Regions from separate parts of the Homo sapiens genome. Here regions 2 and 3 are each linked to region 1. The links come from fine-mapping of genetic effects on gene expression. A gene starts in region 1. Each other region holds a variant in brackets. All regions are shown on one strand. Distances are from middle to middle. Region 1 holds the start of HRNR (hornerin). Region 2 holds the start of CCDST (cervical cancer associated DHX9 suppressive transcript). Region 3 overlaps CCDST (cervical cancer associated DHX9 suppressive transcript).

The links.
Region 2: its variant is fine-mapped to the expression of HRNR in prefrontal cortex (CommonMind, PIP 0.95).
Region 3: its variant is fine-mapped to the expression of HRNR in esophagus mucosa (GTEx, PIP above 0.99).

Annotation. Positions count from the first base shown.
Region 1 is chr1:152,220,324-152,228,727 of GRCh38, forward strand. HRNR (hornerin) reads right to left here and starts at 3,870. Exons shown (of 3, transcript NM_001009931.3): 1 at 3,820-3,870; 2 at 2,793-2,955; 3 at 1-1,167. The coding sequence starts at 2,930. All of the region lies in intron 1 of CCDST (cervical cancer associated DHX9 suppressive transcript), which reads left to right.
Region 2 is chr1:152,185,960-152,194,363 of GRCh38, forward strand. It overlaps CCDST (cervical cancer associated DHX9 suppressive transcript), which reads left to right and starts at 3,344. Exons shown (of 8, transcript NR_186765.1): 1 at 3,344-3,522. The variant C/T (reference allele first, on the strand shown) is at 3,300.
Region 3 is chr1:152,335,691-152,344,094 of GRCh38, forward strand. It overlaps CCDST (cervical cancer associated DHX9 suppressive transcript), which reads left to right. Exons shown (of 8, transcript NR_186765.1): 6 at 2,299-2,399; 7 at 5,397-5,520. Among named protein-coding and RNA genes, the nearest start is that of FLG, 15 kb to the left of the region's middle. The variant G/A (reference allele first, on the strand shown) is at 4,431.

The sequences.
Region 1 (8,404 bases):
CTGCCCTGACCCAGACCCACGCTGGCCGTGGCCTGGAGACTGGCCAGATCCAGAGCTGTGTTGGCCGCGGCCTGAAGAGTGACGGGAGGCAGACTCATGCTGACCATAGCTGGAAGACTGACGTGAGCTGGAGCCATGTTGGCCAGAGCTTGATGCCTGCCCTGACGTAGATCCATGTTGTCCCTGGCTAGAGGAGTGACCTGAGCCAGAACCATGCTTACTATAGCCAGAGGACTGTCCTGAGCCAGACTCATGTTGCCCAAAGCCAGAAGTCTGGCCTGAGCCAGACTCATAATGGCCACGGCTGTAAGAGTAACTTGAGCCAGACCCGTGTTGGCCGTGGCTGGAGGAGTGCCCCGAACCGGACCCATGTCGGACGTGGCTAGGAGACTGGCGAGATCCAGACCCTTGTCGGCCGTGGCCCAAAGACTGACGGGAACCAGACCCATGCTGACCATAGCTGGAAGACGAACCTGAGCTAGATCTGTGTCGTTCACCCCTAGATGACTGTCCTGACCTAGAGCCGTGTTGTCCGTAGCCAGAGGAGTGACCTGAGCCAGATCCATGCTGACTGTAACCAGAGGACTGCCCTGAGCTAGACTTGTGTTGACTAAAGCCAGAAGACTGGCCTGAGCCAGACCCATGTGTGTCATTGCTGGAAGACTGTCCGGAGCCAGAGCCGTGTTGGCCATAGTTGGGAGACTGCCCTGACCCAGACCCACATTGGCCGCGGCCTGAAGACTGATGGGAGTCGGAGTTTTGCTCACCATAGCTGGAAGACTGACCTGAGTAGGAGTTATGTTGGCCAGAAAAGTCTCTTTGAAAACTCAGTCTTCTGGATATGGATTCAGTCCCAGGTTTAAGACTTCCTCTGACGTTTCTGGAATAGGAATCATTCTCTCCTGCACTCCAACTTGAATGACTAAAAGAGGATTCTTGCCGTTTGTTCTCCTCTTTTTCAGTTTCTTCTTGTTCCTCTTGGTGCTGGTGAGTGTCATCTCTCAGCTTTGACCCTGAAACTTGGCAGTAATCTTTGCCAATGATTTTATTACGAGCCTGAACCAGCTTGAATATCATCAGAAGATACTCAGTAAAATCCACTTTCTTGTTATGGTCTCGATCCAGACTTTGCAAGATGATATCCACAGTATCTGGATCGTTTGGATTCTGTATAAGAGAAAGGTACAAAGAGTAGCTCTGTTAGTATGGACAATACATCTGGCTAACGAACTGAAGGAAAGATGTGAAAATGTAAATGTTTGGGTTATTTATATGGAACTCATTCACACAGTCCTTTAGGCTGCATTTCTGTATCCTGAGCAGAAAGAGAAAAAGGAATATGGAATGAATAATGTGGTGGGAAACAGCTAGAATAGGATGCAACTGGAAGATGAAAGGAAACAAGAGGGCTGATTATTTTTGGTAAAGAATGGGTCAAATATGAATGATTAGCTAATTTATAAGTAATATGTTTTTATACCTACATTAATTATATCAACTTTATTTATCCAATTAAATTAACTAGCTACTTAATTTACTCACTGAACAAAGATTTATTATTTTACTAGTTGCCTACCATTATGTCATATGAGAGTATAAAGAAGTGAACAAGTTTGCTTCCTGAAAAAAAATGGAATTTAAAGTTTAGTTGGCCAGATATACAAACTTAAAATTATAATTTATTGTGGTAAGGTTTCTACAAGAGTACATCAGAGAGGAAACATTGGGGGTCCTAGAAAGGTTAATGAGAGGAAATGATGCCTTTTGAAGGATGGATTAGGATTAGCCAAATGAAGAAGTAGGAAGAGAAAGAGAAGGGGAAAAGATTGTTCTAGGCAGAGGGAATTATATGAACAAAGGGCTAGAGGTGAGAGAAGTTATGGAGCATTCAAGGAACTGAAGGAAATTCAGGATTGCTAGATTTAGAGTTTGAAGAGTCAAGAAATGTGGATAGAGAGACAAATAGGGACTAGATTATGACTTTTAAGTTATGTTAAGGAACTTTGTACTTCATTTTAAGAGCAATTGGGAACTATTGAAGGATTTTTAGCTGAGGAGTGAAATGATTATATTTGCATCCAATGCTGAGAGTAGAAGTAGTAGGTGGCCTGAACCAGAGGACTAATAATAGTGATGAAGAGAAATGGGTTGTTTTGAGAGATTATTGATGAGTTAGATGGAGGTTAGAAGGTAGTGGTGTCTGCTGAGAGAGAGACAATAAAAAATGACACCAGGTTTTTGCTTTGGGCAAAAAGATGAAGGAAAAAGGTTAGTGGGGAAGATTATGAGATTCATAGCTGACACACTGAATATCTGACATCTGATATCTGAATATCATATCTGAAATCCACAGAAATCCAAATTTAAGGAATTGAAACTCAGGAGTCTGATATAAGGTCCCAAATATCTAAGCTATCAAATCTAGACCTGACAGTTTTAAGGTGGTGGACACATTCTTTTGTGATTCAGGAGTAAATGCCAATTTCCTGAACTCAGAAATCTACTTCACAGTTTTTCTGAGGACTGTCTGGGTTTGTAGGAATTAGTCACTTAGATAGGACATTATTTAACCTGTGGGTTTTGTTTGTTGTTTAGTAAGGTCACTTCCGTTAGTTATGCTATGGAAACCATCACGGATCTGCTTTTGACCTTATCTCAAACTTTTACCAAACCCTGTTCTCTCTCACCAAGTAAGGACAATCCTCTAGGATGTTTGACATATGTGACAAGAAGGTGGAAAGGGATAAAGAAGAAAATTCCTGCATAACTCCATCCTGGCGTGGAGTTCTTACCTTCAGAATTTGATGAAACTCATTTTCCAGAAGTTCTTTCAGCTCTGCCTTGTTCAACGTATCATACTCCCCATGCTGGGTGGCATATTGGTAGAAAACATCGATGACAGTGATGACGCCTTGTAGGAGTTTAGGCATTTTTTTTTTTGCAAGTTTGAGTAACCTAAAGGGAGGAAAAAGAGAGACCAACCCCTTACTATTCTTATTTCTTGTTTAAACACATAAATAGTTCTAATTATTTATAATAATTGTTCAGAATTAGTCAGTCATGATTAAATTCATTCTGTTGTAATCAAGAACCAATTCAGAGTTGAATGACTTGTTCAAGCCATGTAGCAAGAGAGTGATGAAATTAGGAATATAATCCATAGGTCTTATTTCCATTCCTGAATGAATGTAGGAAAAATGACTTTCTGTTTTTGGCTTCCTGCCATTACCAGGGATAATATTAGCTTTGTTCTGGAGCTGTAGAAGTCCTGAGTGTTCCACTTCATCTGCTTCCTCTTTCTAGGTTCGAAGCATACTGTGGGCATAGGTCCATCATCTACATGACATGCCTTACTCAACCTAAGGAGCATCAATGGCTGAACTGAACTCTCAAGACTTCTAGGTCAGAGAAAATAGACAATGTGAGCAAAGCCAACAAGCCTAGGTGATATGAAGCTAAGGGTAACTGCTATTAGATCCAGCTTCTGTTCTCATTCTCCAAGCAGGAAGTGACCCTCAGACCTTATTACACAATAGAGAGGAAAAGCTCAGTTGTAAAGAAGGCAACCTGCCTGTGGATAATTAGAACCCCATGATATCCATGTTATAAGGGAAGCGACCTCAAAGAAAGGAGATAATATACATAGTCCTAGTCTTTGTTTCATTTTTCTTTTCAGTAAATTTAAACTTATACCAAAGTTCCCCAGAGTATACTAAAAAGAAGCCTTGTATCTAGTGCCTCTTTGCCTTAGAGCACATCCTGGACTTTCATAATTTATAGCCCTAAGTACCCTTGAGCGGAGTTGAACTGCTCACTTACCTAGCTCACCAGAGGAACAAGTAGGGTAGAGACAGAAACAGCTTTCAGGGTGCTGCGAGTTGGGCAGAGTGGCCTTTTTATAGAGGGAATAATGGTCCCTCTTAGGGAGGAGTTGCTAATTTTGAGATGTCCTAATTTACTCCTAAACAAGCCCATCTCCACCTCTATCTCCACCTCCCAGGTGTTTACCTTCTTCCTGACTTCCTTACAGGTTCACCTAAGATTGCATTAGCAGTTCCCAAATCTGGGCTACTCTCAGCCCCACCTGCCAAAGGGTCAGGACACTGCAGAAAGGCCTGTTTTTGTATTCATCAAACTATCTAGCACAATATATTGACAACAAATTGTGTGGATTTTAATAGAAGTTGAATGGAGTGTGTGCAGGGACATCATGGCCCAAATGTCAAAAAATCATGGAAATTGATGATTAAAAGGACTGTAAAGATCATCTAGTCAAACTCTCCCATTCTAAGCTAAATGTTCTTAAATGGTATTCCAGCCAAAGTGTCATCTTTGGTATTGTTATTACCTTTTGAATTGGATAATGGCTCCAGGCCATCCTTTAACTCATTAAGTACCTCAATTTACCAGACCCCTTATTGGCCATTCATCACCATAGCTTTCATTTCAAACACCATATAACCTTAGGAAGAAATGCGTGCTTGTTAGCATGGTATCCATGGTTCCTCATGATCTGGGCTGTGGCTTTTTTCCAGCTCCATTTCTCCCCTCCATATTTCTCTTTGTACTCCAACAGTAATTAACTAGTAATATTTCAAACTTCCTCAATATACCATGGGATATGTTATTTCATATTTTTTCTTAGAATGTCTTTCCTCATTGTCTGCCTAGTGAACTAATTATTCTTCAAAATCCAATTTAGGCTTCCCATAGAAAATCTTTCCTGAATTACTCAAGAGGGAGTTGTAATTGTGTACCTTATTCATATTTATTGTTGTATCAATCATACTATATTGTAATCTTTAAAAATTGTTTTACTATACAATTATTGTTTAATATAAAAATTAGAAAATATTGATAAGCAAATAAGATAAAATCAAAATACCTTTAAAGCCACTAGCCAAAAATAACTACTGTTAGTTATTTGTTGTATATCCTTGCCTTTCACAAACACACACATTCACACACAGACACACACATTTGTCTATGGGCTTATTTCATTTCTAGGCTATGAGCTCCTTGAGAATAAGGAATGGACATTATTTATCCTTATGTCATTTGGAGACCTAGTATACTGCTTGTCACATAACGGTCTCCAATAAATGTCAGTTTGAATTCATTTGAAAGAGAAGCAAGGATCAAGACTATAGTCCTCTGCATTGGCCAACTTCCATCTTTTCACAGGAGGACTAGGGTCTGCCCTCTCTCTTGCCATCTTTGCCTCAGAGGACATGATTTTACCTGAATATAAACGGAATCTTAGCATTGAGAATCAATGAGTGGCTTTCTGCTTTTTTCTGAGGCCCTCGCTCTGCATTTCTTCCATTGTGAACATATAACACAAATTTCACTGAAGGTGTGTGAAGTTACATGGACTTAAAACTTGTGCAATATGGTCATCAGGATTTGAGAAGGTGTGGTAGCAACTGTTGGCAAGTGATAAATTACATGATTCCAAATTCAACTATTGTTAGGCTATGTGTTTTCTTTTAAGAATTGCCCAGAGGGCTGCAGAGTCAGTATCCATTCTGTAGCCGTGTTTCCTCTGGACATCTGATTGGGCCAGGTTTTCATGCTTCATCAGAACAATGACTTTTTAAAGGTGTGGCTGAGACTGTGGGAGTAAAGGGGGGTGGAATTTGCTGAGTGAAGACTGATTTCCTGCAGGAACCAGCTGTTGTCACGAAGGGAGGAGAGGGTTGTGAGAGAAGACTATTCCAGGTGAACGTGCTCTTGGGGCTAGTGTTCTCCTGAAATAGGGGCCAGCAAACTTTTTTTTTTGTAAAGGGCCAGATGGTACAAAATATTATCTCTGCAGGACAGATAGTTTTTGTTGCAACTACTCAACTCTGCTATTGTAGCATAAAAGCAGCCATAGATGATATGTAAACAAATGAGCATGGCTATGTTTCAGTAAAACTTATTTATCAATACTGATCTTTGAATGTCATATAATTTCACATATCATATATTTTTTCAACCGCTTACAAATGTAGAAAACCTTTTTATCCTGTAGGCTACACAAAAATGGATGACAAGCTAGCTATGAACTGCAGGCTGTAGTTTACCACTCTTTGCTCCTCTTCTGTATTTGCTTTTCAGGAAGATTCTCTGGGAGAGGAGGATCTGAGAGAAAAGAAGGGCTGAAAAGTGTGGGACATCAGAACCACTAACTCTTGCATGAGAGAACAAGAGTGAAGGTGAATTTGTAAATATCAGCATGTGTGGGGTGGTGGGGAAAGGGAACAGAACAAGGGACCTTTGGCTGCTCGTAAAAGGGAGATAAATTTTGATTTGATGTAAGGGAGAAATATTTAATATTTGCATTGACTGAAAATGCAGTGAGCTCTTTGTGAAGTAACTGAATTTATTGTCAAGTATCATATGAATAGTTTTTTACTATTAAAGAAAAAATTAATTCTTTCATTACGTTGTTTTCTGGATATGCTCACCAACTAGAATTTTGTTGGGCTTTTTTTCCTCGTTTGTATCATGAAAATAAGAAGCATATTACATATGCGTCTTGGTCTCTTCTCTCCCCATTGAGAATTACTTATTAAGAGTAGGACTAGATTATCACAAAAGTCACTTTCAAAACAGTTTCTTGTTTTTTTTAGAGTGTGTGCTCCATAGTAACAGAGTTGGACATGAAGATTCCTCCATCATGGGTTTGGTTAGTGGTTTTTCCACTTGGAGATGATAGGTTTCAGGAGAAAAGCTTTTCTATGGTATGTGCCATGTTCTAGGTTTTTGAGTGCCTTTCTCTGTGTGTTGGCAGAAGAATGAAAATTACATTCCTTTTTATGACAAGCACAGTGCTTTGTGTGTGGGTGTACATTGTTTCATTAATTCTTACAACAACCCTGTTATCTAGATATTATATTTCCATTTTGCAGATGAGAAAACTGAGGCTCAGATGAAATCTGTAACTTGTTTCAAGTCACTTAGCTGTTAAGTGGAGAAGACAGAATTCAAATTCAAATCTGCTTTTTCCTAGGAATAGTCAGCAAGTAGGGAAATATTCATGTCTTGGTAAAGGAAGGGTTTTGGAAACAGTTCTTCAGGAATGGAGTGTTTCACCTAGGAAAAACAAACAAACAAAACTAGCAAGGATAAACAGTGAAGTTCCAGTACCATCTGTGTGCACTCATTTTTTTCTGCCTGTCTGGAAGGCAGAGTAATGTGCCTATTGCACCATCTGCTGGGTCATAGGGAAATTCTAAAGCAGATCTTTTCTTCATTGCCTTTTCTGCCCTTTTTCCTTACAGAAATTATTTCATGGAATTTCTATAGTTCTTTGTAGCCTAGTCTCTATAAATGAGGAGACTATGTAAAAAATAGGGGTATGTATATAAGAGAAGGTTGATGGTCATGATTTTGGGTAAATGGAATCAAAAGAAGTTAGCTATAATATGAAACTGGTTAAATAGTGCTTCCTTCTATATCCTCTTTTGAGTCCTTTTTACTGTTATCTCAAAAAATAAAAAATGGATTCGATATAATTTTACAGCTTAGTATATATTCCCTGGGGATGAGACAGGCATGGTGACATATCTTTCAGCTTCAGACCCACACCCTGGAATATATTCTGCTTCAGTACTGGTCTGCCTATTGAGTTGTTTCTTTCTCCCTTAATATCCTCCATTTTCTCTTCCGAGAACTCCAAAATGCTTCAAATGCTGGGAATCCAGAGCTCATTCATACATGTATCCTTTTATTTATTCCATCAGTATCTTTCTCTAATATATATATATATATATATATATATATATATATATATATGAGAAAAAAATATATATATAGTTTTTTTTTTTGGGTCTCACTGTTGCCCAGGCTAAAGTGCAGTGGTGCAACCATGGCTCACTGCAGCTTCCAACTCCAGGGCCCAAGTGATCCTCCCACTTTAGCTTCCCGAGTAGCTGAGATTATAGGTGTATGCCACTGCATCTGTCTAATTTTTATATTTTTTTGTAGAGATGAGGTCTCACTGTGTTACTTAGGCTGTGTGTTCTTATCTTGATGTTTGATGCTCTTACTGGCTTGGTATTCATAGTCTCTATCCCTTAGTTCCTACTACCTGAAACATTCAGCATGCAGACCTGGTCCATTAAAGTGGACAAATGGAGAAGAGTGACTGGAAGCGATTCTCACAAACACTTCAAGTGTTAGAAATGGTACCAAAAAAAAAAAAAAAAAAGCTGAGATATAAGGACCTTGATTGTTGGAAATCAAATCCAGAACATTTGCCTTTCGATGTGCATGCGTGCGTGCGTGCGTGCATGTGTGTGTGGCAGGGGATAGTGGTGGGATAGCAGATAGAGAAGGGAGAGTGAGGCATTGTAGTATGAATGTAATGAGTAGCAAACTGATCAGACCTCTGTTTCCTTTCTGGCCTCATCTTTCA
Region 2 (8,404 bases), 34 kb before region 1:
TTACTGGCCCAAATGTTTACATTTGATTTAATTTTACCATTCCCACGGCCTCTGCAATCAATTTCCTTTCTTGGTTCTATAGATTTTATTCTAGAGGCAAAGTCCTGGGGGATTTAGGAGTAACACAGTGTCTTACACACAATAGAAGTTTTATGGTGCTTACCAAGTGTCTTTCAAGTTCTTACTATTATCCCCATCTTGTAGATGGAAAAATTAGGGCACAGAGAGGTTAAACAACCTACCCAAGGCCACACAGCTAGTCAGGGACATCAGCAGGATTTGCACCCAGACAATTTAACTCCATAATCTCTACTTTTAACTTTCTTAACAACTGTTGACGGATGAACAGACGGGTGTAATTTGAGAGGCCCTGAAAAAGGTCTTACTCCAAAATATACTTTCCACTGAGGTAGTATAGTTATATAATGTCTACCATAAAGCACTGCCCTTTTTCTGTTTCTTATAGTGCTTTTTAAAGTATAAATAGCCTATGAAGGGTTATATTAGCCCTTTAGTGTGAATTTATTCATTAGATGTTTTATATTGTCTTGTTTAATAAGTGCTAGAAAGGGCTAGAAGGAATTACTGTGTTCTGCAAAGGGATCTCAGTAAACGGAACTGTTTTATTTCTTTGCCCTTGTTCTGAACTGTACTGAAAAATAGAAAGAAAATGTGGTGCTCAAAATGTCATCTTTTTTATTGATAGTGATTAAGTAAGACATTAGTAGCGCTAGGTCTGCTAGCTGGGGCTTGCTCATACTAGAACTGAGAATTAGGCTAACTTACCCACCTAATCATGACAGGCCTGGGCATCCTTGCCTAAGAGTAAGTCCCTATTATGCCATAGGGATCTCTGCAGTTCCCAAGTAGAAGCAGAGTAGAGCTAAGCCAATTATTCTTACAAAATTTACCAACCAGTTAAGTCCTTCTACCATCTCAGGGGCAAGGAGAAGAAAGGAGTGAAAAGAGGCCAGGAGTGGGGAAAAGGCGCTCACCTCTAGTAGAGACCTTAGACATCACCTAATCAAGCCTTCTCATCATACAGATACAATGGAATTCCAGAGAAGGGAAGGGACTTTGATAAACTAAGGTTGCGAGCTGTGAAGGGGTTGAGTCACGACACTGGATATGCTGATTTGGCTGCCAAGCTCCTTCAACATTCCACCACAATGCCCTTTTCCAGGAAGAGTGAGCAGTGGGAGTGCTTTAGAACCTGGCATCCAAGGGACCTGGTGGGAAGGGGGAGTGAAGAAGTAAAGCTACAGCAATATGCCCAGTGAATAGGTCCTAGGGTGAGCCCTCAGCACTTTGGATACTGGAGTCAAGCCCTCTTTCTTCTGCTGTCCTCCTTGAAGCTCCACTCAGTGTCAGAGAGGGAAGACTATTTAAGATCACCCACCATATTAGTAGGATTTCTCAGAAACAGAACCAACAGCATGTGTATTTATAGAAAGAGATTTATTACAAGGAATTGGCTGATGTGAATATGGAAGCTGGAGAGTCTAAAATCTGCAGTGTAGGACAGCAGGCTAGAAACTTGGGAGAGCTGATTATACACAATCCTAAGGCAGTCTGCTGGAGAATTTTCTCTTGCTCAGGGATGCTAGTCTTTTTGTTCTATTCAGGCCTTGAACTGATTGGATGAGGCCCACCCCATTAGGGAGGGCAATCTGCTTTACCCAAAGTTTACTGATTTAAATGTTAATCCCATCTAAAAATATCCTCTGAAATGTGAAAGGGAAGTTCACTATGCCAAAAGAAAAAAATTAAGCAGAAGGTAAGTCATGCAAGCAACGGCCTTTCCTTTTGTTCCTAGGCCCATAGCTACTGATAAAAGATTAAATATCTCCACTCTATGTTCACCCTACCTTGTGTAAAGCACCGATTTACTGAGCATGAGACGGAAACATAATTGACTATTCCCTTACCTTCTTCTCCTTTTATCTTGCAATATGTGGATTTAGTAATGTGACCCTACCCTCCCTATTTCTTCTCCACCCTGCTTTCACCCTTTAAATATTGAAGTCCTAAAAAATTATCATTGGGGAAAGCACAGACCTGTTTCTGGAGTGGTCCTTAACCTTGGCAAAATAAACTTCTAAGGTGATTTGAGACCCGTCTCAGATAATTTTTGGTTTACAAAATTCACACATAAAATTAACTACCACACCCGTTTTTTCCCTTGATTGACTCTGTGAGACTGAGTTTTCTCCTTTAGTCATCTGAGTACCACCTTCAAGATTTTTGCAATATCTGTGTATATATAATAATAATATTCTTATTTATTTATTTAGAGACAGAGTCTCGCTCTGTTGCCCAGGCTAGAGTGCAGTGGCGCGATCTCGGCTCACTGCAACCTCTGCCTCCAAGGTTCAGGAGATTCTCCTGCCTCAGCCTCCTTAGTAGCTGGGATTACAGGTGCGTGCCACTATGCCCGGCTAATTTTTGTATTTTTGGTAGAGACGGGGTTTCACCATGTTGGCCAGGCTGGTCTTGAACTGCTGACCTCATGTGATCCACCCACCTCGGCCTCCCAAAGTGCTGGGATTAGAGGCATGAGCCACAATGCCCGGCCTAATATTTTTGAACCAATGTTAACTACTCACTTAAGAATTTAGCCTTACACTAATATTTGAGATAACCGGTTTGTTGGGCTGGTTTTAGTATTTTCTAACACAAATAAGAATAAATACTCAAACATTCTTAAAAAGTGCATGTAGCACTTAAGACTATCTTGGTACTCCATTTGGGAAACCATGTAGCCAAGGCTGTTGGGGCGAACCAAGGTGGTGGGAGTCCGACGGGCCAGCAGGGGGCGCACTTGCAGGTCACCTGAAGTCCTTATTTACGGGATAAGGTGGAGGCTGAGGAAAGTCTTTCAGAGGCCGGACGCTGGCACTGGACGGAGTAGGGAACCCTAGCCGTTATCCCACCAAAGGGTCCCAGCGCCTAGAGGGGCTGCGGAAAGCTCCTACAATACGAGGAGCCCTTGGAGCCCAGAGCGGGATCCTGCGAGCCGAGGCCCCGTTCTCTGTTAGGATCACGGGGACTGCCCCAGGCAGCTGCTGGGCCCGGTCGCGGACCTCGGCCAGAACATCCTCCCAGAACACAGAGGAATCTGACATCAGTGGCCTCCCTTGGTAGAGGTGGGGAGCCGAGGGGCGGCAGTGTGGAAGGGCCATCGGCCTAGGTCTTTCGTATCCCCTCCGGCCTCTCGGGGCTGTGCGTTCGGAAACAGCGAAAGGAACGGCCTCAGGAATCTGGCCTCAGCCGGAGCACTGGTGAACACAGGCTCCCGT[C/T]GCGCCAAGGGAAGTAGGAAAAGCTGCTTCCGGGCGGAGGGGCTGCACTTCCGGGGCCCGCGTCCCCCGGCGGCTTCGCCGAGAAGGGGCTTTGGGAGCTTAAGGGCGCCGGCACGCGTTCCCCTGGCGCAGAGCTCGCTAGCCGGGGCGCGGGCTGCCTCCTTGTTCTGGTGTGATCCGAATGTAACGGAGCGGACTTTGGGATCCAGAACCCCGGACTGAGGTTGTGCTTGGCTTGAGGGGCGGGCTGGTAGGTCAGCCCCCTTGGGGCGTCGTTGGTCCTCTCCAGGCGTGTCACATTCTGCCCGCACATGGTGCCTTGGTACTCCCCAAAAGTCATGCCTTGATTTTTCTTACTAATAATAGTTTACACTGTTTTACCGCTTCACTGCTTCACGTAAGTAAAGTAATTATTTCAAAAGGAAATGTTGGTCATTTATAAAATGGTGGTAAAGATGGTACAGCGGATTAATGTGAGGATTAAATGAGATGATACATGAAAGTGCTTAAAACAGTACAGGGTACTTACCGTTATTATTGTTAAGTAGAAAGTGAGTTCTGGGAAACAGTGGGTGTATGGTCCTTCACAGCAGGTTTTGGAAACGTCTGATTTCCAGCCTACCCTCCTTCCTCCTGTTGCCGTCTGTTGCCTGATTGTTCTCACTGGCTGAAAGGAGATAATCCCTGCCACTCCATTCATCACTGAAAATTCTTGTCAGTTTGGTTGCTTAGGTACCTACTAAGAGTTGCCAGCAGGTGGCCCCAGAGCACGCGGTTATGTTTGTCTTTTTGGGTCCCATGTTTAATTAGTAATTTAGTAGGGACGTATTGAATACTTATTCCACACTATGGTACACTGTACCAGGGGATATAGGGATGCCTGAGGGTGTGGGAGGCCGACCCTGGTCTCAGGGAGAATATAAATGATTTATTATTCTGGTCTTTCACAAGATTTTGGCCTTTTTAAAGATCGATTCATGTATTCATTCAACAAATATTTATTGGATGTTTACTCTGTTCCAGTTTCCACTCAGAGATGTGAAGTATATCAATGAATAGAATAGACAAAGATCTTTGCCTTCATAGAGATCACATTCTAGCACACAACAATAAAGATAATAAATTATGTAAAATGTTAGAAGTGTTATGAAAAAGAAAAAATGTAGACCAGTGTTTGTGTGTGTGGGTAGGGTTGGTGGGATGGGCAGGTTGCAGTATGAAATAGAGTGGTTAGTATTAAATAGGCTTCATTAGGAAGGCAAGATTGAGCAAAGATTCAAAAGATGTGAGGAAATTAGTCAGATCTGGCGGGAAGTGTGTTCTAGATATGAAAAAATTGGAGTTATTACATTTACTCCTTTAAAGATGAGGTAATTGAGGTTCAGATAAGTAAAGTAACTTGTTTAGGGTCTCATAAGAGGTTTCTAACAAAACTGGTCTGGTTTCATGTCCTCATTTCCAGTCGTGTTCATTCACCAGATCACATTACCACTTGGTGTTTTTAGGGTGATGGAGACTTCACAATACATAACTTGCTTAAATCATGACTAAGGTTATCTTGGCATACTTCCCATCATTGGGTAATACCAAATTCTCTGTGATCTTTCTTTTTTTACATAATCAGTAAATATTTATTTTGCTAACTGGTGTGGAGGATAGAAATGAGGCATAAAGCCTGTCTCCTGCCCGTAAGGGACAAATAATCTATACATAACCATTTTGGCCTTCATCTCTTTTTCATCTACTTTCCCCATTTCCCCCAAGACAAGCCCACTGATAATCTGTACCTACAGCTTAGAATTAGGTCAGGTCCTTAAACTTGGTCACCCATTCTTGGTTTGTAGGTTCCAGAATTTCACTGGATTCCTTTTGCTGACAGTTGTTGTGCCTCTGGTTATCCCCCAAGTCTCTACTCCCTTTATCCTGTGTTGAACTTGTCTATGAGACTGAGCTTATGCTATGCTTTTCACTCCTCAATTAGATATCCCATCTGGATCCTTAGTTCCCCTCTAGAACTGCCTCCTTGTCTCTTGTAGTCTCAGTTGTTGATCTTTCCACTTGAGTGGAGACTTTGCATTGCTCCTATTTGGGAGTTGTGCCCCTTGTTCGCTGTGCTTGCTCCCCTTGAGCTGCCTCTCTGAGCCTGAGTCAGTTCTCTTCACCTCTGGCCCAGGGAACTCTGGACATGTGCCACACCCCTTTCCCTTCATGCCTACACTTGCTGGGAGGATATTGTGGTGCCTTGTGTTAAAAGTCCTGGGTTATGGCATATGTGAAACAGCCGCGAAGGACAGAAGACTATTTTTACGTAATTAATTGCCTGGGAACTAGTTGTTTAAAGGAGAAGGGTGTTCGGTAAGCCTGAGTGGGTAAGAATGAGGAAGGTGGAACTTGAGCCTGGTCTTGAGGGATGGGTAGAATTAACAGGTGTAGGGGAGAGAACAGGGTTGGGGGTGAACTTGTTATGTTGTGAGCCAGTAAGGAGATTAGCCTAAGTGGAATGGAGAAGATGTGTTTGGGAGTGGTGGTGGGAAGAGGATAGATAGGCAGGGCTGGATTGGAGCAGAGCCTGGAGCATCAGCTTGAGAAGTTTGCATTACAACATCATAAATTATTTTTAAATATTTTATGGTTCTTGGGAAGCTGGCATGAAGGCACAATGACAATGTGTCATTAAGATCTGTATATCTACCTGCCTATCTTTGATCATCTCAAATTTGCTTTGTCCCTGAATGCCCCATATGAAAGAGGTTCCCTTGGTTATTTTTTCACAGCATTGTGTTCCTTACTTATTTACTTTTTCAGTTTTTTCTAGTGTGCCCTAGAATGAATGTTGCCAGGAGGCAAGGACTTGTTCTGCCTCCTTGTTGAATGCCCAGAATGTACAACAGTTTCAGATACACATTCAATGCTTTAAAAATATTTGTTGAATGAATGAATGCCCTGAGCTAAGTTTATTTCTTTAAACCTGATCTATTCTACCTTCTGAATTCTTGAATTCTGTTAGTGCTAACACCATCCATTTGGTCTGCTAAGTTGGATACTTGGAGTCAATTTTGATGAAGACATGAGTACAGGTCTTGACCATTCTTAAACTTTACATGAGGATTGTATTCCCACTGAAGCCTTGTTTTTTACTCCATTATGCCAAGTTAACACAATGTAACGTGTTGCATTTTCAATATGAAGACAGAAAACATCAAACATGAACAGTGAGGCTAAAGGAATGAGAAGTTATTGGGAGCCAGGGCCATGGGCAAATTGTAAACTGTGTGTATCTAAATGTAACCATCATATTATCTGTTCTGTCCTCTTCCAAGGGGAAGAATCATGTAATGGTTAAGAACATGGTCCCTGGAGTTAGGCTGCCTGGGCTCAAATTCTGGCTCAGCCACTTACTAGCAGTGTACCCTTGGGAAAGCTGCTTAACTTCTCTGTTTCTCAGTTTTCTCATCTATAATATATGGGTAAGAATAATACTTACAGAGTTATTGTGAGGATTAATATGTGGGAAGTTCTTAGAGCAGTGCTAGCATATAGTAAATGCTCATCAAATGTTATTATTAGCTATATTAGCTATTATTAGCTGTTAATATTTAGTGGGCCATTGAAACAACATAGGCTCTATTGCCATTTGGGCTGCTGATCTGAAACAGGTGGCCAGACTTCATTGAGGGATGACCTTTGCAAGGTGTGATTGAGGGTATGGGATTGAAGGAAATTTGGGATTTTTTGAGTGAGGACTGAGTTCCTGCAGGAGATATAGTCACCCCAAAGGGAGTTACCAGGTCCAGATGGAATTATTTCCAGTGGAATGTGCACACAAATTCTTTGACACAAGTAAGGAAGTATTACTACTTAGTTATCTATATGTGAATCTGCACAGAAAACTGAAAGAACTCTGTTGCTACCTTGCTTTTGCTTTTTTGAGGGAGAAGACAATCAAGTGTGAAGCCAGGCAAACCTTTGAACATTGTTATTAAGGCAGAAAAAGCCTTCTTCCTCTACTTTCCCATCCTCTCCTTCCTCACTGTCTGTTTCTCCCTCTCTGTAAACACAATGGGACATTTCATTTCAAGAGTGTGTCTTGTTGAGGTGGGGCAGAAGGGTTTGGTGGTTTTATCAGACTGTTTAACCATAAAACGTTTTTCATCCCTGTGTTCCTGTGCCCCACCATTTCAGGCACTTGGTATTTTTACTGCCTCACCCCCATCAACAGAGAAAAGGTGGATTTGATGTCATTTATTATATACTTTAAAGTAATTTTATTTTGCTGAATTTGTAAATACATGCAAATGAAATATTTTAGAGCTACAAAAACAACCATGGCCAGATATGTATGAACGAGGTCTTTCCCAGTCCCCCTCTGGGTTTTGCACAGATTTATTCTGAGGGTCCCTTAGTCCAAACTGGGGGATCCGCAGACAAAGAGATCAATATTTTTCTCTTCTAAATTCAAAAGGCAAGGTGCAGGTATGAGACATTAAAGTTTGAAAGAAGACGCTACTGGGAACATTTTTTTCCTTCTACTCCACCCCTATCCAGAATAGAAAAAAGACCATCTAAACAAGAGTGGAGAGGAGTTTGGAGAAAAAGTAGAGTAGGTTGTAGTGTATGGGCTGGGCCTGTGCTCTTCCCTTGCCCCAGACTGAGTGTGAGGAGTGGTGAATAAGAACACCACAAACCTGTCTGTACGTATGGGAATCCCAGAGCTGAGAGGACACGTGTCTCCTTTTCTTAGTGTCACCAAGATGACTGCAAACCCTGTAGAGAGGCCCTTCAGTGCTGTGGAGTGGAAAACTTGGTTTCACATGTTTGGCCTTGCTTGTTGGAGAAATTCAGACCCCTGAGTTTCTCTTAGCCCTAAAATGGCATGAGAGGACATCTGAAATTATCAATTATTCTTGTTCCCTTCTTAGATTCTTGCTTGTCTTCCTTTTCATCATTCTGATCTATCTTTAAGAGAGGTCACTTTTCAAATTCTATCTTTAAGAGGTTTTAGGTCTCAATATATTGGGTTTTCCCTTCAATATGGGTCCATTTTGGACTCTAAACCTCAAGTTTCCTTTTATGTGGTTCCCTCTTTACATTTATTCCTTGATACT
Region 3 (8,404 bases), 120 kb after region 1:
CAGAGGCCAGGCTTCCCAGCTTGTCAGAATTTGCCTGTCAACTTTGCAACTGTAACCCTCTATGAGAAATATAACTTTCCTTTCAAAATTTATAAATTGTGTAATTTTTAAGTTAACACCCCTCTAGAAAATGATTCAATTTTCCTTGTCTTTCTTTTCCTTTGTCTTCTGAAGTCAGAAATCCAGAATCTGTTTGTTCTTAGGTCTCAGCCCTTTTATTCTCTCCTATGCTTTCACCAAGGATATTCTATTGTAGCAGACAGTTATGTGAGCTTGCAAAATTAACCATTCATAGACTTTGGCCCCAGAGTTTTTGCTGACTTGAGACCATCAGCACTCAGGATATCAATTTTTTTTTTAAATCCTAGGTATAGAGATGTGAGTTAATCATATTCCTTATTTCATGGCACATTGTAATTATTGAGCTATGCAGACTCTTCTGTGGAAGAGTTGGTTAACTTTCATCCCCATTCTTTATTCCCAGTCCTCTCCTCCTCCCTCAACAGATAAATTATTCTAATGAGTTTACTGTATATGGCTTAACTTGTACAGGTGTTTGTAAAGTATCTATTGTTACTTTTATGTTCATAGAGTTTTACTTTTATGTAAGTGCTATTTTTTTTAGATCTCATTCTTTTTTTTACCTTTTTTTTTCATTTAGTATCCATGTTGCAGTATGTAAGTCTAGTCCATTGCTTCTAATTGTGCTGTTGTTTTGCATCTACTCAGTATACCTCTGCACTTCCCTGGTGATGAACACTCAAATTGCTTCTAATTAATTCCTCAGCACTAAAAATAATGCTGCGACGAACATCCTCTTACATATGTCCATTATGGATCTCTGGGAGACATTTTTGGGGGTCATAAACACAGAAGTAGAATTTCTGGGTGGTAGGCTATATGTATACTTGATATTGACTAGATACTGTCAGATAACTCTCCAGAACAGCTTTACTTTCTTACCAGGAGTACATGAGATTTCCTAAACCCACATCCCAGCCAACACCTAGCAATATCTAGTTTCCTAACTTTTTCCAGCTCATTTCACTGTTATTTTGATTTTGATTTCCCTTATCCATGAGTTTGAACATCTTTATGTATATTTGTAAGCCATTTTGATTACCCTATTCTATACATTGCCTGTTCAAATACTTTGTCCATTTTTCTGTTAATTTTCTTTTTTACTTTAAGAAGTTCATTGTATGTTCTAGACGTTAGTACATTGTTATTTTTAGACACTGCAAATAATTTCAATGTGTCTTCTCTCTGTTAACTTTGTTCGTGGTGTCTTTCACTGAACAGAAATCTTTAATTATGATGTAATAAAAGTCATCACTAGTTTTGTATTATGTGTGCCTGTAAAGTTCTATCTACAATGTTCTTTCCTGTGCTGAGATTACTAAGGTATTTTCCCATATTTTCTTCTCTTTACTTTGTTGTTTTAAGCTTCACATTCAGATATTTATTTCATTTGCAGTCTATCTTTGTATGTGACTTTAGGTAAATATCCAATTTTGTTTTTATCTATGGCATGAGCCAGGTTTGCAACTCCTTCTATTAATCTGCCCTTTTCCCATTGATATATGGTACCCACTTTACTATATATTAAGTTCCCATATAAACATACTTAATTTCTAAGCTCCTTATCATGTTTCACTGATCTTTTTGTCATTGCAATAATATCACATTGTTATTATTACTTGACTGTGTAGTATGTCTTAATACTTGGAAGGGCAAGTACCCATTCTTTGCCTTTTTCTTGAAATGTTGACTTACCTGTTCGTGGATCTTTATTCTTCCATAAAAACTTGAGGTTATTGAACTTCTCAAGAAATTCAACACAAATATTTTGAAGTATTTGTGATTGTGTTGAATGTATAGATTAATATGAACTGACATGTTTATAATATTAAGTCATCTCCCCCAAGATATGGAATGTCACTCCATTTATTCAGATAATCTTCTATGTCATTTATTAGATTTAAAAATTTTCTCCATGGAAGTATTATATGTTGTCATTATTTTCTAGTTATTTAACATTTTTTGTTGCTGTTCTGAATGATATCTTATTTTTAAATACATTTTGTAATTGGTTATTGTTGGAGAGAAAAGTGCTTTTAATTTTTGTAACTTGATTGTTTCTGATAAACTTGCTGAATTATCTTATTAGTTGTAATACTTTGTTGATTAGGTGCTTTTTTCTAGCTAGAGAGTCATATTATCTTACCTGCAAATAATGTCATTTGTTTTCTTTTTTTTTTTCTACCAATGTATTTATTTCTCTTTCTTTCCTTATAGCATAGGGCAGGGCACCCCACTATGGCAAACACTAATAATGATATTGCTCCTGATTTTGTTTCTGAAGGGAATGCCTCTAAGATTTCTTCATTAATTATAAGGTATACTGTATTTTTTGATATATTAATAAATTTCCATTTATTTCTAGTATGAGTTTTTATCTTTGATATGCATTGAGATTTGTCAAATGTATTTCCTGCATTGAGATGAACATGTTATTTTAATTTTTTTAGTATATTAATGTGACAAATTTTAAAGATAGGTTATGTGATTTTTAATAGTTTTTGCATCCTGTTATCAATCTGAATTAATTATATATGATTATATATGTAATTATATATAATATGTATATAATTATTAAGCATGTATTTTGTAGACAACATGTTGAATCTTTTTTGTAGTTTTTATCAACTATAAATGTCTCTGTTATTTCATTAGTTTAGGCTATTTACATTTTTGAAATTATGTTATTTTAATTATGTTCATTTAACTAACATAGTATTTCTGCCATCCTGTTTCATACTTTGCCTTTTCTATAGGTTGTTTAAATTTTTTTTAAAGGCAATGATTGGCTGATTTTTTCTATTAACAGATAAACTCCAATTAAATAAATAAACAACCCATATTTGACTATATATTGTTTATTAAAAACACACCTAAAACAAATGACAAAGTAAAGATTAAAAGAGAAGGATGTAAAAGATATGGCAGGCAAACACTAATGCAGTTAACAGCAGATTAAAATAGAATTAAAGGTAAAGTGTTTTGGTAATTAAAGGCATAATATATTTTGCAACCTTTTGCAAAGGGTTAAAGAGCAGTAAAAAGTAACAAAAATAACTACAGATAAACTAATGATTTAAAAATAGAATATTATTGTCAGTTATCCCTTCAAAAAGCTGAAAAAATTGAATATTATAAACAACTAAGTACCAGTAATGTTGAAATCAACACAAAATGGATAAGTTAGTAAGAAAATGTCAATTGCCAAGGAATCTATATCTGACTTTCTATTTTCAACCATGAAAGACTGACTGTTTCAAACTCCAAAGTCAGGAGGCCCACCCACTAGTTTTAGCTAGATCTACCAAACCTTTAAGAAATCCACATTTTGCATGAACTATTCCAGTGCACAGAAAAGAATGAAAATTTCCCAACCAATTTTGTCAGGTACAAAAATTAGATAGTGAAAGCCCAAGAACATAAAACTATAGATTAATTTCACTTATGAACACAGAATGCAAATATCCTAATAAAATATTAGCATATCAATTCCAGGAGTGTCCCAAATTTATTTCCCAAATAGAGTTTACCAAAAGATTCCAAGATCTGTTTAACTTTTGAAAATCAATTAATATCATTTAAAAATAAGTGAAAAAAACATATAATCCTTTCAGTAGATTGAACAAGACATTTGATAAAATTTTAAACTCATTTGTAGTAGAACTTTTCAGCAAATTAGGAATAGAAGGGAACTTTCTTAATCTGATATTGGCTATCTAACAGAAATCTATAGCAAACATTATACTCTACTTCAAATACTGAAACATTAGAACAATGTCATTGAAGTCAGAAAGAAGACAAGGATGCCTACTATGAGTACTAATATTTAGATAGTCCTAATCAATAAGAAATGAGGTAGCAATTCCACTTCTGGGTAGTTATCCAAAACAATTGAAAGCAGGGATTTGGACAGATACTTTTTGACCCACGTTCATAGCAGTGTTATCGACAATAGCCAAAAGGTGGAAACAGCCTAAATGTCCGTTTTGTTAATGGATAAACAAAATGTGGTATTTACATACAATGAAATATTATCCAACCTTAAAAAGGAATGGCATTCCAATACATGCTACAACACAGTTGGGTCTTGAAGAAATTATGCCAAGCAAAAGAAGCCAGACACAAAAGGACAAATGTTGTATGACTTCACTTAGATAAGGTACCTAGAGTAGTCAAATTCATTGAAACAGAAAAGAAAATGATGGCTGCTGATGGAAAGGGAGAATGGAGGATTATTGTTGAATGGATACAGAGTTTCAGCTTGGGAAGATGTAAAATTTCTGGAAATGGAAGGTTTTGACTGTTACACAACAATATGTATGTACTAATGCTACTTAATGGTACACCAA[G/A]AATGATTAAAATGATAAATTTTATATTATGTGTATCTTACCGCAATAAATAATTTAGAAATGTGGAATCAATGTTGAAAGAAAGATAATTTGTTCATCAGTTTCAGACAAAATGAACCCCCCAAAATTAATTGACAAACATTCAAAGATAATAAGAGTGCAGCAAGATAGTCAAATACACAATCAGAATGAATACGTTCACAGCTTCCTATACAATAGAAATCACCAATTCAAAAATATGATAGAAAAATTCCATTTGTATTAACAACAAAAATAAACCCCCAAATAAACCTAATGAAAAAGTGAAATACTTTTATAGGAAAAAAACTTACAAAAGGATATAAAAGAAAATCTGAATAAATTGTGAAATACAGCATGTTAAGATGACCAGTTGTCTGAGTCAGTTTGGAAAATGTATGGGGGTCTTTAAAAAAAAATGGAATTACAATATGAGCCATCAACTTCACTTCTGAGTGTATAGCCAAAGGAATTAAAATTGGTGTTGAAGAGATATCTGCATTCTCACTTAAACATACCACTTAAAAATGTACACTAAATGTTAGGTGTTTTCTGTGTGTACACACATGTCTATAAAAATATCTTTAAGTTTTCTGGAAAGAATCAAGCCCTATTCCTCAGTGATTATTCCTGGGTACAGAAAAGAAGTTATTGGATTTGGGATGAAGGTCAGAGGAGGCTGTAGCATATATCTACAAATATTCTAATTTTTCAAAGGAAGAATATATTTCTGTATCATTTCATAATTAAAATCAATTTTTAAAACGTTTTTTATTTGCGGCATGTTTTTGTTGAATGAATGCATGGTATGAACTAATAATGATGTGTTCAGTAATTTTCATGCATATAATTAATAGGAGAATAGTTTTGATGACAATTTTATTTATTTACAGTAATATATTGGCTTATTTTACTAGCAGGCTTGCATGTCTGTTTGTTTGTATTTAGAGACTGGGTCTCACTCTGTTGCCCAAGCTGGAGAACAGTGGCACCATCATAGCTCACTGCAGCCTTCAACTTCTGGGCTCAAGTGCTTCTCCCACCTCAGCCTCCCAAGTAGCTGGGACAACAGGTACAGTCCACCAAACCCAGCTAATTTTTTTATTTTTTTGTGTGTGTATAGACAGGTTCTCACTTCATTGCCCAGACTGGTCTCAAACTCCTGCCCTCAAGGAATCCTTCTGCCATGGCCTCTGAGCCACCATACCTGGTGCATGTTTATGTAACGTGTCTATATTAAAAAATAAGAAAAAACATTGATAACACTTAAAAAGATGGGCTCTCATATTAAGTCCTCCTTTAACTTCCGCTACACCTACACTAACCCATTTCCCTTTGGTTCTATTTCCAAAAGACAACATGAGGTGGTAGGAAAAGCCCTGGTCTGGGATATGGTATGCAGTGTTGTTCTGATTAACAGTTGACATCTATTGGTTGTGTGACACTGGAATTCACTTTTTTCAGATGAAATATAAAGGGAATATCATGGGGTTCCTAACCTGGCAATATCTATGAGTGTACTTTGAAAGGTCTGTAAAGTCCCTGAAATTATAAGGAAACATTTGTAAGTGGGTCTCCGCATTTTTTTGAGGGGAAGGGCATTTAGGAGAGGGATGCTCAAATAGTTCCGGAACAAGAAAACAGCAAAAGGTTAAGAGCCATTGACCTAGATGATCTTCAGTGACCTTTCAGCTGTGAACTTCTGTTAAAAGTAATCCTTGAGGCTTGAGGCTCTTTTTTTGCCCTGTCCTGTTTCTCTTTCCATTTATCAAACTCCTAAACACAAAACAAAAAACAGTTATCAAGTTTCATCAACTATAAAATATATATTTGATTACCAAAGTTAATATGATTATTAAATGGAATAATTCATGTAAAGCCCTTTACCACTGTCTGGCACAGAGTAAACAAACAACAGATAATTTTTTAAAAAAAGAGCTGAGGTGGAATTTATTGGTGTTACAACAGCAAGTTTAAATCCCTAAGCCAGTAGGCTAGGCCTGTGATTTTTTTAGCTCATTGGAGGAAGGTGATAAACTTTGAAATAGTCAGTGATTAAGGCTGGAAAATTCTTTGAGTTCTGAGAAAACCAGTAGAAACTCAGCTTTGTCCAAAACCTGGAAAATGATAGGCATTCAATCAATGTTAGTTTCTTCCAAAATTTGGCCTCATATTCCTCACTTTTTATCTTTTTTTCTCACCTAGAGGGTCCAAGGCCTAGAATGCTTATTAAAGACCTTGCAAAAAATAATAGAGTTACACTTTTTAAAGGTCTTACTAGAATTTTCTATAGCCATGGTTCTCAATATGTAGTCTTGGGGTGCATGTGAAGTAAAAACTACTTTCATCATAATACTAAGATATTATTTGTCTTTTTAATTTTCATTCTCTTACAAGTATCCAGTAGAGTTTTCTAGATGTGTGATGTCACAACAGCTGGAAGGCAGAACTAGGTACTATAATCCAGTTGTCTTCTATTAAGCTAGACATCAATGAGATTTTCAAAAGTGTAAAACAATGCCACTCTTCTCATTAATTGTTTTCTAAAAATAGTTACATTTTAATAAAAATATGGTATGTTAATATGTAATGGACTTGTTAAATGAATAAATACTTTAAAAACTTCTCAGTTTTAGTTTCTAATATGGAAAATATTGGTAGACATAATCCCCATAAACAAAAGCTCTTCATGTTTCTCAGTAATTTTTAAGAGCAAAAAGGGGACTTGAGGCAGAAATCCTCAAGAATCACTTCTGCTGATTCTACTGAGAATTACTTCTCTGTAGAAATAATTGTTCATTAAATGGATAAAAAATACGGAGAAAACTATGGTTTACCTTCATCCTGGACATTGTCATCATGCTCAATCTCTTGTTTTTATGAATAACTTTTAACTTTTTTCTCTAAGTGAAATGGACTTTTTTGCAATCATATTTTTTAGCTAGAAGGCTGACAAGAGCCAAATTCATAATAGAAAACTGATCCTATATGCCAGAAATGCTGACCAAAGCTTGGAGATCTGCCACACAAAATAATTCCATTTGGGAGTTTTTCATAAAAATGCTTGGATCTCCACCCCAGTTAGATCTTCTTTTTAACTGTACTCTCTGATCGTGTTAACACTTTGCCTCCTTCCAGCAGAATAACCTAAGCTTAAGTCTCGCTCTATTGTATGACTTTGACGACACATTTCTTCTTGATCTGACCTCTCTTTGTTTGCCTGAATGACCTTGTTTTCCCAGTTCCCTGGAGCAGGAATTATTCTTTGTCTATCTGGATCATGTTCTTTTGCTCCGAAGTCTCTCTGTCTATACTTTGTGTGAGTGTAAACATATGCGTTCGTTTATATTTTATTTTAGTGACTTTTTAAATTTGAAAGAATGAATGCTCCTTAATTATAAAATAGTCAAGCAATACAGAAAATTGTAATAGAAGACAGCAACAAATCATCACGGATTCCATCATATAGAAATAATCAGTGTTAACTTCTGGAAAACATTATTTCAGATTTCTTTGTATGCAGCTGGATGGAGAGTTAGACAAAATTTATTTAACACAATGGAATCATACCATTTATGCAATTTTAAATAAAAAGTTAACAATTTTCCATAGTATCTTAATTTTTATTCATATTTAACTTGCTACAAAAGATTCCAAAGAAACTTATCTTTATTTTCATTTTACAGTCTTCCCATGCCTATTACTCCAACATCATTTCTTGCTATGCTTCCACATACAACCTATGTCTTAGCTATGCTGGATTATTTTCAGGTTCCCTGAGCTCACTATGGTCTTTCTTACTTTAAGACTTTACGTACACTTAACAAAAGCCTGGAGTAGTTAGTCTCCTCAGATAAACCTGAATAACTCCTGACCATCTCTGGAGACCCACTGCAAATTCTCCTCTTTCCTTAAGATTTCTCTGAATCCTTTCTTCACCTTTAATCAGGGTTAGT